Linked DNA regions of Homo sapiens. The protein of the gene in region 2 interacts with the protein of the main gene of each other region in a biochemical or structural test. Each region holds a gene or a part of one and is shown on either strand. Other genes may lie near its edges. The genes, in order: BLK, PLCG2 and CD19.

What was found.
Region 1: the proteins of PLCG2 (region 2) and BLK form a complex in vitro, tested with the Homo sapiens proteins (one study listed by BioGRID).
Region 3: the proteins of PLCG2 (region 2) and CD19 form a complex in vitro, tested with the Homo sapiens proteins (one study listed by BioGRID).

What each region holds. Positions count from the first base shown.
Region 1 is NC_000008.11:11,497,282-11,501,028, reverse strand, and holds part of BLK (tyrosine-protein kinase Blk), read right to left. Parts: intron 1-3,747. UniProt on the Homo sapiens protein: Non-receptor tyrosine kinase involved in B-lymphocyte development, differentiation and signaling. B-cell receptor (BCR) signaling requires a tight regulation of several protein tyrosine kinases and phosphatases, and associated coreceptors.
Region 2 is NC_000016.10:81,777,712-81,781,458, reverse strand, and holds the start of PLCG2 (1-phosphatidylinositol 4,5-bisphosphate phosphodiesterase gamma-2), read right to left. Parts: upstream 2,169-3,747; 5' UTR 2,035-2,168; intron 1-2,034. UniProt on the Homo sapiens protein: The production of the second messenger molecules diacylglycerol (DAG) and inositol 1,4,5-trisphosphate (IP3) is mediated by activated phosphatidylinositol-specific phospholipase C enzymes. It is a crucial enzyme in transmembrane signaling.
Region 3 is NC_000016.10:28,930,427-28,934,173, reverse strand, and holds the start of CD19 (B-lymphocyte antigen CD19 isoform 2 precursor), read right to left. Parts: upstream 2,204-3,747; 5' UTR 2,174-2,203; coding exon 2,086-2,173; intron 1,829-2,085; coding exon 1,562-1,828; exon of another isoform or gene 1,264-1,561; coding exon 1,060-1,263; intron 941-1,059; coding exon 665-940; intron 1-664. UniProt on the Homo sapiens protein: Functions as a coreceptor for the B-cell antigen receptor complex (BCR) on B-lymphocytes. Decreases the threshold for activation of downstream signaling pathways and for triggering B-cell responses to antigens.

The DNA.
Region 1 (3,747 bases), on a different chromosome or scaffold from region 2:
CCATGTTGGCCAGGCTGGTCTCGAACCCCTGACCTCAAGCAATCCTCCCACCTTGGCCTCCCAAAGTGCTGGGATTACAGGTGTGAGCCACCACGCCTGGCCAAAATAAAAAGTATTATTTAACTTTATGTAAAAATCCAATTGCACCACAGAAATGGCAGGAATAAAAGAATCTTAAAATGAAATAATTTATATAAACTTTAACATAAAAGGTAGAGCCAGGCATGGTCACTCATGCCTGTAATCCCAGCACTTTGGGAGGCTGAGGCAGGCAGATTGCTTGAGCTCAGGAGGTTGAGACCAGCCTAGACAACATGGTAAAAACCCATCTCTACAAAAACCAAAATTAGCCAGGCGTGGTGGTGCACACCTGTGGTCCCAACTACTTGGGAGGCTGAGGTGGGAGGATTGCCTGAGCTGGGGAAGTGGAGGCTGCAGTGAGCCATGATTACACCACTGCACTCCAGCCTGGGAGGCAGAGCGAGACCCTATCTCAAACAAACAAAAACAAAATAAAACAAAACAAAAAAACAGGCCAGGTGCAGTGGTTTATGCTTGTAATCCCAACACTTTGGGAGGCCAAGGCAGGCAGATCACTTGAGGTCCAGAGTTTGAGACCAGCCTGGCCAACATGATGAAACCCTGTCTCTATCAAAAAAATACAAAAATTAGCAGGGCGTGGTGGTGCACACCTGTAGTCCTAGCTACTCGGGAGGCTGAGGTGGGAGAGTTGCTTGAACCCGGGAGGCGGAGGATGTAGTGAGCTGAGATCAAACCATTGCACTCCAGCCTGGGCAACAGAGTGAGACCTTGTCTCAAACAACAACAACAAAAACAAACACCCCCCAAATCAATCTAAGGTGGAATATGTGTAAAAATAAGCTATTTCTATAACTGTAATAGACTCACAGCTGGACATTTGACTGCAGGTTGGCTCCCTCAGTGAATTTTTCTGTTTTGTACACAGATAGGGAACTAATCCTTAGTGAGCACCCTCACTGTATATCAGGCTCTTTCAGAAATGCTGTCCTGCTTGTATTTGTTTATATATTCATTTCCTAGTGTTTCCAGAAAAGATTTGAGACCGCTTATAAAAATACATACAATACAACAGGATAGAAAAACAGATAAAGAAATTAGACCAAAGGGTAAGTTAGGGCAGAAAAAAAAATGTGTATAAAGCTGGTGCACAGAAATACAAACTGTGACATGCTGTCACCAAACTGCTAGTGGTTAGATGCAAATTGGGTTCTAAGTGTCCTGGAGTCCAAGCACAAAGAAGAAAATAATCAGTTTGAAGAGTCACAGTGTCTGTAAGACATCCATTGCTCCAGAGAGGCATGGATTTCCTGGATCTGGAGTCTGAGAGTCATCCTCTCTGGGCTTCTCCTGTGGAGGTCCTGGGTGGAATGCGAACAGCTTAACGTCATCTCAGCAATAAATTCCACTGTGAGTTTCCAACCTCTGTTTCTTATGCAGCCTTCAGCACAAGCCACGGCAGTGTACCCATGCCAAGAAAGAATGCCCACATCTGACTCAGGAAATGAGATTCTCTCAGGATCTCAAGCACTGTGAGATCCAAACACACAGCTCTTGGACTGACTATCTGGATACAGGGGAAGTTCCCAAAATATAGTTACGTATTGCTTCACTACAGGGATCTGTTCTGAAAAATGTGTCATTAGGTGATTTTGTTGTTCTGCGAACATCGTATACAAAACTTAGATGGTAGAGCCTACTCCACCCCTAGGCTCTGTGGCATAGCCGGTTGCTTCTAGGCTACACACCTACACAGCCTGCGACTGTACTAAATACTGCAGGCAGTAGTAACACAGTGGTGAATATTTGTGTCTCTAAACATAGAACAGGTACAGGCAAAATACAGTGTCTTCATCTTATGAGACCACCATCATATATGTAGTCTGTGATTGACCGAAATCTTATGTGCCCTGTGACTGTGTCTAGGTTCATGGCTCTCAATCTTACTAAATTTACTTTCTCTTTTGAGAAACAACAACACCATGCTCTCCTTTGTGAGGTTTCAAAATGAATATTGGGCATAAAAGTAAATCAAAGAAGTTGTCATGTAAGATGTGTCTTTTTGAAGTACAAGGACCCCCTGGTGGTTCTGACATTGAGAATTGAGTGCACCCTGTAAGAAAAGTTGTGTGCTCCTCAGCTTCAACTCACCTAAAAATTAGGGCTTTGTAATTTAATTCTGTTAATCCTGTGATGTGCTATTATCAATGAATGAAGAAATAAGACTGAGAGGATATAATTAACCTACCCGAGACAGGTAAGGCTGCTCGTATACAGTGGGGTCAAACTATTATCATCTCAGGAAGGCACACAGTGACTTGCTCACATTGCCAGGGCTGAACCTTGCACTGGAGCCCTCTGGTTGACAAGGCCAGCCGTCTAACCACTACACTGCAGGACGAGACCACTCAGATGTGGCTGCTTTGTCTGACTTCTATGTCCAAGTCCTTTCCACTTCCTCATATCCACAACACGCTGAGAGAGAAAATTAAAGTAGTCTTCCTAGATATTTGACTGTGTGATTCCAAATATTTTGGGGTTCACAGACCCCTTTGGGAATCTGACAAAAACTGTAAGTACCCACCTACACAAAAGCTTGTTTACAAGTTCACGGAGCTCAGAGCACCAGGAAACTCATCAGGAATCCACAGACTCAATGCTCAGAACCCACTTCATCTATTAAGCACAGAACCTCAAATGCCCTTATAGACACCACATGGCATTGTGCGTTTCACACATACACAAACTTTTCCTGCACTTGAACGACCTGAGCATGGGAGCCTCCTTACATTTTGCATCCCAGGTGTGTCTTGTTTGCCTCCCACTGGTCCAGGTTCAGCATCCTAGGTGCCAAAGTGTGCAAAAAGGCCAGCAGCTAGTTGTGATGAGAAGGAACGTGAGAAAACTTCCTTGATTACAATGTGGAAAGCACCAGCGCTTTGATGAAGGGGTTGCACAAGCCCCACAGTGGACAAGGAGGAGCCTCGTCTATGTCTTGGGCTCTGGACCCCCATTCCGTGGTTCTGTTCAGTTCTCATGTCTGTGCTTGAGAGTGGGTGCAACTGCTCCCACTTCACACTCCCAGCTGGCAGGTGCAGAGCCAGACTGACCTGGCTGGCAGGAAGCCCCAATGCTTTCATCTATACCACACTGTCTTACAGGAAGTGGAATGTGCCAGAGGCCTCAGATGCCTCTTCTCTTTCTTCCAAGGGTCCTGTCAAAACCCCAGCATGCTGATGGCACTGGGGTGCACCACGATTAGGGATGATCATTCAATTATCTTTGCTTTTCCTCTTTCAAGCTTTCATCCTCATGTCTTAACCTTGATTTTCATTTAAGGTTTTGCCCTTGTGTCTTTAACTCAAGAACCACTTTACCAGATACCCCTGGTGGGCCAGGCACTGCGCTGGGTGCTGGGACCTGGAGGCACATGTAGGGCATGTCCTTGTCCTCAGGAGCTTTGGTCCAGAGAACCTGGCAGGCCTGCAAACCAGAGCCCTGGGTGTGTGCTGGTGGTTGCTGGGGACACACAAATGGGCTTGGGCACTGTGACTGGGAGGAGACATTCGCACCTGCCCTGGACGTCAGAGCAAATGCAAGTTGCCTAGGTGGGAAGGTGGGGAAGGGATTCAGGCAAGCAGGAGCACGCCAGGGAACATTCCACAAATGGGAGGGCTGCTGTGGGGTAGCAGCAGGCTGGCAGTGGGG
Region 2 (3,747 bases):
ACGGAAGCAATAGTTGCAATAGAAATACAAAAAAAGAAAAAAAAACAGAAAACAACTGCTCATCAATGTGGGGGGCCTCCTGGATAAATAATGGTGCACATGCACTGAAGAACGCTCAGTAGCCATCAGAAAGAATGAGGATGATAGATAAGCAATTTGATCTGGAAAGATTTGTGAGGTCAATAAAAAAATAGCTTCAGACAATAGTTGCAACTGTATGAGTATAATACAATTCCCTTTTTATAAAGGTGATCTTCTGGTAAATCCAGGAGAGTGGTTACTATTTATCGGAGGCTGGGAGAGGGTAGAGGATACAACTTGACTTTATTTATATTAACTGATGATGTAACGGGCAAATTTTTCTCTTTGTGTTCTTGCTGTTTTCTAAATTAAGAAGTGTTTGTGTGTGTTTGTTTGTTTGTTTGTTTGTCTTGAGATGGAGTCTCTCTTGTCACCCAGGCTGGAGTGCAGTGGCATGATCTGGGTTCACTGCAACCTCCACCTCCTGGGTTCAAGTGATTCTCCTGCCTCAGCCTCCTGGGTAGCTGGGATTACAGGCGGCCACCACCACGCCCAGGTAATTTTTGTAGTTTTAGTAGAGATGGGGTTTCACCATGTTGGTGAGGCTGGTCTGGAACGCTTGACCTCAAGTGATCAGCCCAGCTCGGCCTCCCAAAGTGCTGGGATTACAGGTGTGAGCCACCGTGCCTGACCAAGAAATGTTTTCAAAAGTTTTCTCACCAGCAGCTTTTCATTGACTCTACCCAATGAGTGCAAAAGGGCTATTCATGGGGTCTGTGCTTTTCCACTTCCAGAGGAACTGCCCATACTCCAGTCGCTGGTGGGGGAAGGCAGCTGCATCATTAGGTGACTTAAACATCAGTGAGGCTCACAATGACGATTGTCCCTGAGCTGGTATACACGTGACTGCACACACACCTTTGCAAGAGAAACTGCTTGAGGCTGGCATAGACTTCAAAATTCTGTAAAACTTCCCCGCAGAACTGTAGTCAAGGACGAGGGCCCATGCCCCAGAGAATGCCCTTGAACCAGAGAGTCAGGAACTGCCCAAGGACTCTCCATGGATGCGCCCCGATTCTCAGCGAACCTCGTGGAACAGCAATAAGCCCCAATTCTCGACACAGCCCTGGAAAATTGGGTGGCTCCAGTATCCAGAGGGGGAAACAGACTCAAAAAGGTTCTTCAACTTGCCCAGGGTCCCACTGATGGAACTGAAATTCAAATTAAGTTCCGACGGGCAAGGCCACCTGTTTCCCTCGCGCCATGTCACCCCTTTACCACCCCGCCCCCCATAGTTTCTCACCCTAGTTCAAGATTAGGGTACCAAGAGAGCCCCGCCCCACCGTCCTGCTGGAATCCAGGAGCTCCCCGTCCAAACGGGGCACGTCTTTAACCTGAACTCTTGCGCTGTGCGGGTAATGCCCTCTTTGGGATTCCAAAACACAACAAAACACAACACGCACAGACACACGCATAATTACGCAGACAGCTGCGGAGCGGGCATCGCGAGTGTCCTGCAAGCTCTCCAAAAGTCTCCGGGAAGGACTGCGCCTCCCGCGGTATCGCTCCCACCCGCCACCCGCAACCACCGAAGTGAGACAGGGAAGTGTGGCTCCGAGCGTCCGCGAGCTCTGGGCACAAGGGCCGTCAAGAGAGACGGCGCCACCCCACGCAGAGCCGCTCGAAAAGAGGAGTTTTGAACGCCAGCCCCCACACGACCCCTGACCTTCCTCCCGGTCCCCATTCAAAGCTGGGGCCGCCCCACCGCACGGACCGGAGAGGTGGCGCCGGCCCGGGGTGAGGAAGTGGCCAGCGGCTGGGCCAGGATCCCTGCCGTCACCAAACGGACCCCGGGCACGGCGGGCCGGGGTCCCCGAGGGTGCGCCCCGTCCCTGCCCGCTCCGGCTGAGCCAGGACGCAGACCCCCTCGGACGCAGCGCCCTGGGAGCCGGTCCCCGCGGGGCGCAGGTCCCTGGGCGCCCTGCCTGCCTCGCTCCCGGCCGGGCAGCTCACCTGGCCGTGCCGCCCGGGCACAGCTGCCCGCCTGCCCCGGGTTTGGGCTCCGGGGTCCCGCGCGCGCAGCCCGCGTCCCGACTCGGGTCACTCAGCGCCGCTCACGCCCTCCGCCGCCGGCGCTCGCTACTTCTGCTTCGGCCGCGGCGCCGCGCCACGTGATCCTCGGGGGCCGCCCCCCGCACCGCCCAGCCTCGCCCCGCCTCGCCCCGCCCCAGGCGCGCCCAGCCGGGTCCGCCTCTCGGAGCGCACCCCGAGTGCAGCGTCCCCGCGCCCTCCCCGCCATGGAGCGGCCCAGGCCTGGAGCCCCGCCTCTGCGTGCCAAAGAAGAAACTGAGGCAACCCGAGGGGAGGCTACCTGCCCGAGGCCACTTGGCCAGGTGCAAAGGGAATTCCCCAATATCATGGCATTCCTGGAGAGCCGGCCGCAGTCCAGGTGTTTGCCGTATACTTAACACACTCCCGGCCGGGCGCCCGGGCTCACGCCTGTCATCCCAGCTCTTTGGGAAGCCTAGACGGGAGGATCGTCTGAGCTCGAGAGTTCGAGACAGCAATGAGCTAGGATGGGTGTGGCCGAGAGACACTCCGTCTCAAAAATAAATAAATAAAAATTAAAAATAAATATACTCTTCACAATTACCCGCCAGGAATTGCCAATTCATGGCCCTAATTTGAAGCCCTCGTTGAGGCTGCGCTGGAGTCAGACCAACCCTTACTGCTACCTTAGGCAGACCACTTAAAAACCGACAGCCTCAGTTTCCCCATCTGTAAAACGTGATCAACATAGTGCCAGCCCCAAAGGGAGTCAGGAGCAAAGAACCCCAGACAATTGATGTCCCGTTTTCCTGATCTCATGGGAAGAAGCTAATATGTTCTTTAAGAAATTTATTTTTCCGTTCGTGTGTTGCATGAAGCTATCTGATTCAAACCCTTCCTATGCTCTTTGATGGAGGTATCTTTGTTGTGACTAGAGGCAGTTTCAGGGGCACCTAGACAGCTGTCAGGCACTTGAATTTCACTTCCAAGTTGCTTGAGTTATAGCTTCTGTTTTCTAAGAGGCAGGGTCTCACTCTGTCACCCAGGCTGGAGTGCAGTGGTGCCATCATAGCTCACCACATCCTCGAACTCCGGGACTCAAGCGATCCTCCTGCTTCTGCCTCCTGAAGAGCTGGGACTATAGAGGCACACCACACTTGGCTAATTTTCTCTTTTTTCGACATGAGGTCTCACTATGTGTCCCAGGCTGTTCTTGAACTCCTGACCTCAAGCAATCCTCCTGCCTCTACCTCCCAAAGCACTGGGATCACAGGCATGTGCCACTGGTCTGTTATAGCGTTTTTTTTGTGTGTGTGTGTTTTTGGTTTTTTTTGTTTTTTTTTTTGTTTTTTTTTTGTTTTTTTTTTTTTTTGAGACAAAGTCTTGCTCTCTTGCCCAGGCTGGAGTGCAGTGGCACGATCTCGGCTCACTGCAACCTCCACCTCCCAGGTTTAAGCGATTCTCCTGCCTCAGCCTCCTGAGTAGCTGGGATTATAGGTGTATGCCATCATGCTTGGCTAATTTTTTGTATTTTTACTAGAGACGCGGTTTCACTATGTTGGCCAGATTGGTCTCAAACTCCTGACCTCAAGTGATCCACCCACCTTGGCCTCCCAAAGTGCTGGGATTACAGGCATGAGCCACTGCACCCGGCCTGTTATAGCGTTTTTTAATTGA
Region 3 (3,747 bases), about 53 Mb from region 2:
TCAGGAGTTCAAGACCAGCCTGGTCCAACAGGGAGAAACCCCATCTCTACTAAAAATACAAAATTAGGCTTGGCCCGGCCCTGTGGCTCATGTCTGTAATCCCAGCACTTTGGGAGGCCGAGGCGGGTGGATCACGAGGTCAGGAGTTTGAGACCAGCCTGGCCAACATAATGAAACCCCATCTCTACTAAAAATACAAAAAAAATTAGCCAGGCTTTAATCCCAGCTACTCGGGAGGCTGAGGCAGGAGAATCACTTGAACCTGGAAGGTGGAGGTTGCAGTGAGCTGAGATCGTGCCACTGCACTCCAGCCTGGGTGACAGTGCAAGACTCCGTCTCAAAAAAAAAAAAAAAATTAGCCAGGCGTGGTGGTGGGCACCTGTAATCCCAGCTACTCAGGAGGCTGAGGCAGGGGAATCACTTGAACCTGGGAGGCGGAGGTTGCAGTGAGCCAAGACAAGATGGCACCACTGCACTCCAGCCTAGGCAACAGAGCGAGACTCTGTCAAAAAAAAGAAAGACTTGGAGTCAGTGTTCTGTGTGGAAGTTGGGGTTTGGGGTGAGGCTGGGAGTAGCCCTCGGGTTGGGGGAATCTAAGATTGACTGGCTTCCACTTCTTCCCAGTACCCCCACACAGATGCCTCCCAGTTGAGAGAAACTCTACCTGGCCGAGCAGTGATCTCCAGGTGGAATGACATGGTCAGGTTGCCACGGTGACAATAATACTTTCCAGCGTCTTGAGCTGTGGCCCGGGGCAACAACAGACCCGTCTCCATTACCCACATATCTCTGGCCGGGCGATCGTCCTTCAGCTCTAGGCTCAGCAATGACTTAGGCCCCTTGGGGTGCACATGGGTCCAGGAGAGGGGGCCCCTGGACACAGAGTCAGGGGGTACCCCACAGGACAGCCAGAGTGTGGAGCCAGGGGCCATGGTGAGGTCTGGGACAGGGAGAGATAAGACAAGGAAAGCCTGATCCTCAGGGTTTCACCTCTTCAGTTTCCCCTCCCCTCTGTCTCTGGACCCCCGCTTCCCGGCATCTCCCCAGTCATCACCATACCCTGGCTGAGGCTCTGGTTCAGGCTGTCCCTCGGTGGGAGACACGGAGGCTCTCCCTCCCAGATCTCAGGGCGGTCTTTGGCCCACACATACAGCTTGGGGCTCATGAGCTTCCCGGAAGGGGAGCTGGGGCCCTCTGAGGACCTGTTCTTCAGGCCACAGCCCAGGCCACCTAGGTCCGAAACATTCCACCGGAACAGCTCCCCTGGGAAGAGACCCAGAACCAAATGCAGAGACACCCAGGAGAGGGAGAGAGATAGAGACTCAAAGACAGAGATAAATAGAGACAAAGACCCGCAGAGAGAGAGAAGACAGTGAGAGGTAGAGGGACAGGAAGCAGCTCATACTGAAGCCACGAAGCCCCAGGAGTCTGCCCACCTAGCTCCGAGTTTCGCCCTCAATCCCTCCAGCCCCTCTCTCCAGCTCCATTGTGGCCGCGGACCTCTTCTGTCCATGGTGGCCTCCCTTCTCTCCTCCTGCCCCTGCCCCAGCCCGGCCCTCACCGCTGCCCTCCACATTGACTGTCCAGCCAGGCTGCCAGGCCTTCTCAGAGGGGGGCCCCGGCTGGCACAGGTAGAAGCCCCCCATCTGTTGAGAGACGTTGAAGATGAAAAGCCAGATGGCCAGGGGCCTCATGTGGATTCCCAGGCCTGGCAGCCCCAGGCTGAGTTTTAAGAAGGGTTTAAGCGGGGACTCCCGAGACCAGGTCAGCTGCTGAGTGGGGCCATCTGAGGTCCCCTTGAGGCACTGCAGCACAGCGTTATCTCCCTCTGTGGAGAGAGAGGGAGAGAGGTGTGGGCATGGGTGGGGGGGACCTCCAAGCCCCCCGACTCCTCACACCAGGTTATAGAGCAGAGGACTCCAAAAGCTGGGAGTGGAGGAGCCGGCAGAGTCCTTCCAACCCTTTCCTGAATTTTACAAATAAGAAAATGGAGGCTCAGAGAGGGTAAGTTACTCAGCCAAGGACACCCAGCCACAACTCAAGTTTCCAGCCTCAATCCCTTCCCTTTCTGCCCTTTGGACATACCTTCCACCTTCACCACTAGAGGTTCCTCGGGCCTGACTTCCATGGGGGTGAGGAAGAGGAGGAAGAAGAGGAGGCGAGGAGGTGGCATGGTGGTCAGACTCTCCGGGGCACCCAGCTTCGCGCAGGGGATGCTGGGGCAGGCAGGGGCCTGGAGGGCACTCAACCATGGGTGTCTGCGGGGGCGGCAGGCAGTCCCCCCAGAGAGGAAGGCGGTGGTCACGCCTCAGGCCCCATTCTCCAGGAACCCTCCAGACTCACAACACTTGCCTCCTCCCTGCCACGCTGTTTTATTTTCATCCCAGCTCTCACTACCACGGGAAATGATCTTGTGTGTTTATTTGTTCATTTCTGTTTTCTGCACAAGAATGTGAGCCCCTTGGAGTAGAGACCGTGTTGTTCACCACTAATTGCAAGTGCTCTAGAACAATGCTGGGCACATAGACTCCTTCTCAAAAAAAAAAAAAAAAATTAGCCGGGCATGGTGGCGCACACCTGTAATCCCAGCTACTTAGGAGGCTGAGGCAGGAGAATCACTGGAAACCAGGAGGCGGAGGTTGCAGTGAGCCGAGATCACACCACTGCACTCCAGCCTGGGCACCAGAGTGAGACTCTGTTTCAAAAAAAAAAAAGAAAAGAAAACAGTCCTATACAAATATTGTTTGTGAAGATTAAAAATGACAATATGTTCAGCACTATTAGCCCAGTGTCCAGCACATCATAAGCCCTCAGTTAATGAGATACAGCTTCAATTAATGCCTAAGAGCTCAAGTCATACTGCCTCAGTTTAAAACCAGGCAAAAGCCAGGCACAGTGGTACACGCCTATGGTCCCAGGTCCTTGGGAGGCTGAGGTAGAAGGATCGCTTGAGCCCAGGAGTTCAAGGCTGCAGTGCACCATGATTATGCCTGGGAATAGCCACTGTGCTCCAGTCCGGGCAACACAACAAGACCCTGTCTCTAAAAGAAAAATTGTTTTAAAAGAACCCAGGAGTTCTAACTCCTAAATCTGTTCTTATTCTGCCCCATGCCTCTCCTCTCTGTCTCTCTCTTTCTCTGTCACTCTCTATGTGCCTCTGTGTCTTTTTCACTGCTGCAGGGACTCAGAAAAAGAATTCAGGGACCCAAGAGACCCACTTTCTCAGTGGCTGATTCCCAGGCCCATCTCACCAGGCTGTGACTTCCTGTTTGCTGTGGGCAAGCCCCAGGGGACCCTCCCTACAGGTGGCAGGGCCTCCACTTCCCTTTGGCCAGTTGAGGCGGCTGGGAGGCGGAAGAATGAGGCATGAATGAAGGGGAATGAAGGGGGCGAGTAGCAGGACTCAATCTGCCTTTCATTCAACAAAATCTCTCTAATCCCCTCATTAGCTACCCAGCTGCCCAGACTGGCTTTCACTAGAGCATGTCATTCCCCTGCTTAAAACATGTCAGTTACAGCCAGGCACAGAGGCTCATGCCTGTAATCCCAATACTTTAGGAGGCCGAGGCGAGAGGATCCTTTGAGGACAGGAATTTGAGACCAGCCTGTGCAACACAGCGAGAACCCATCTCTATAGAAATTTTTTAAAAAACAAAAAATGTCAGTTGCTTTTCATCTAGCTAAAATAAAAACTCCAACCCAAGGCCTAGTAGGCCGAGTGTTGCTGACCTACCTACATTTTCCACC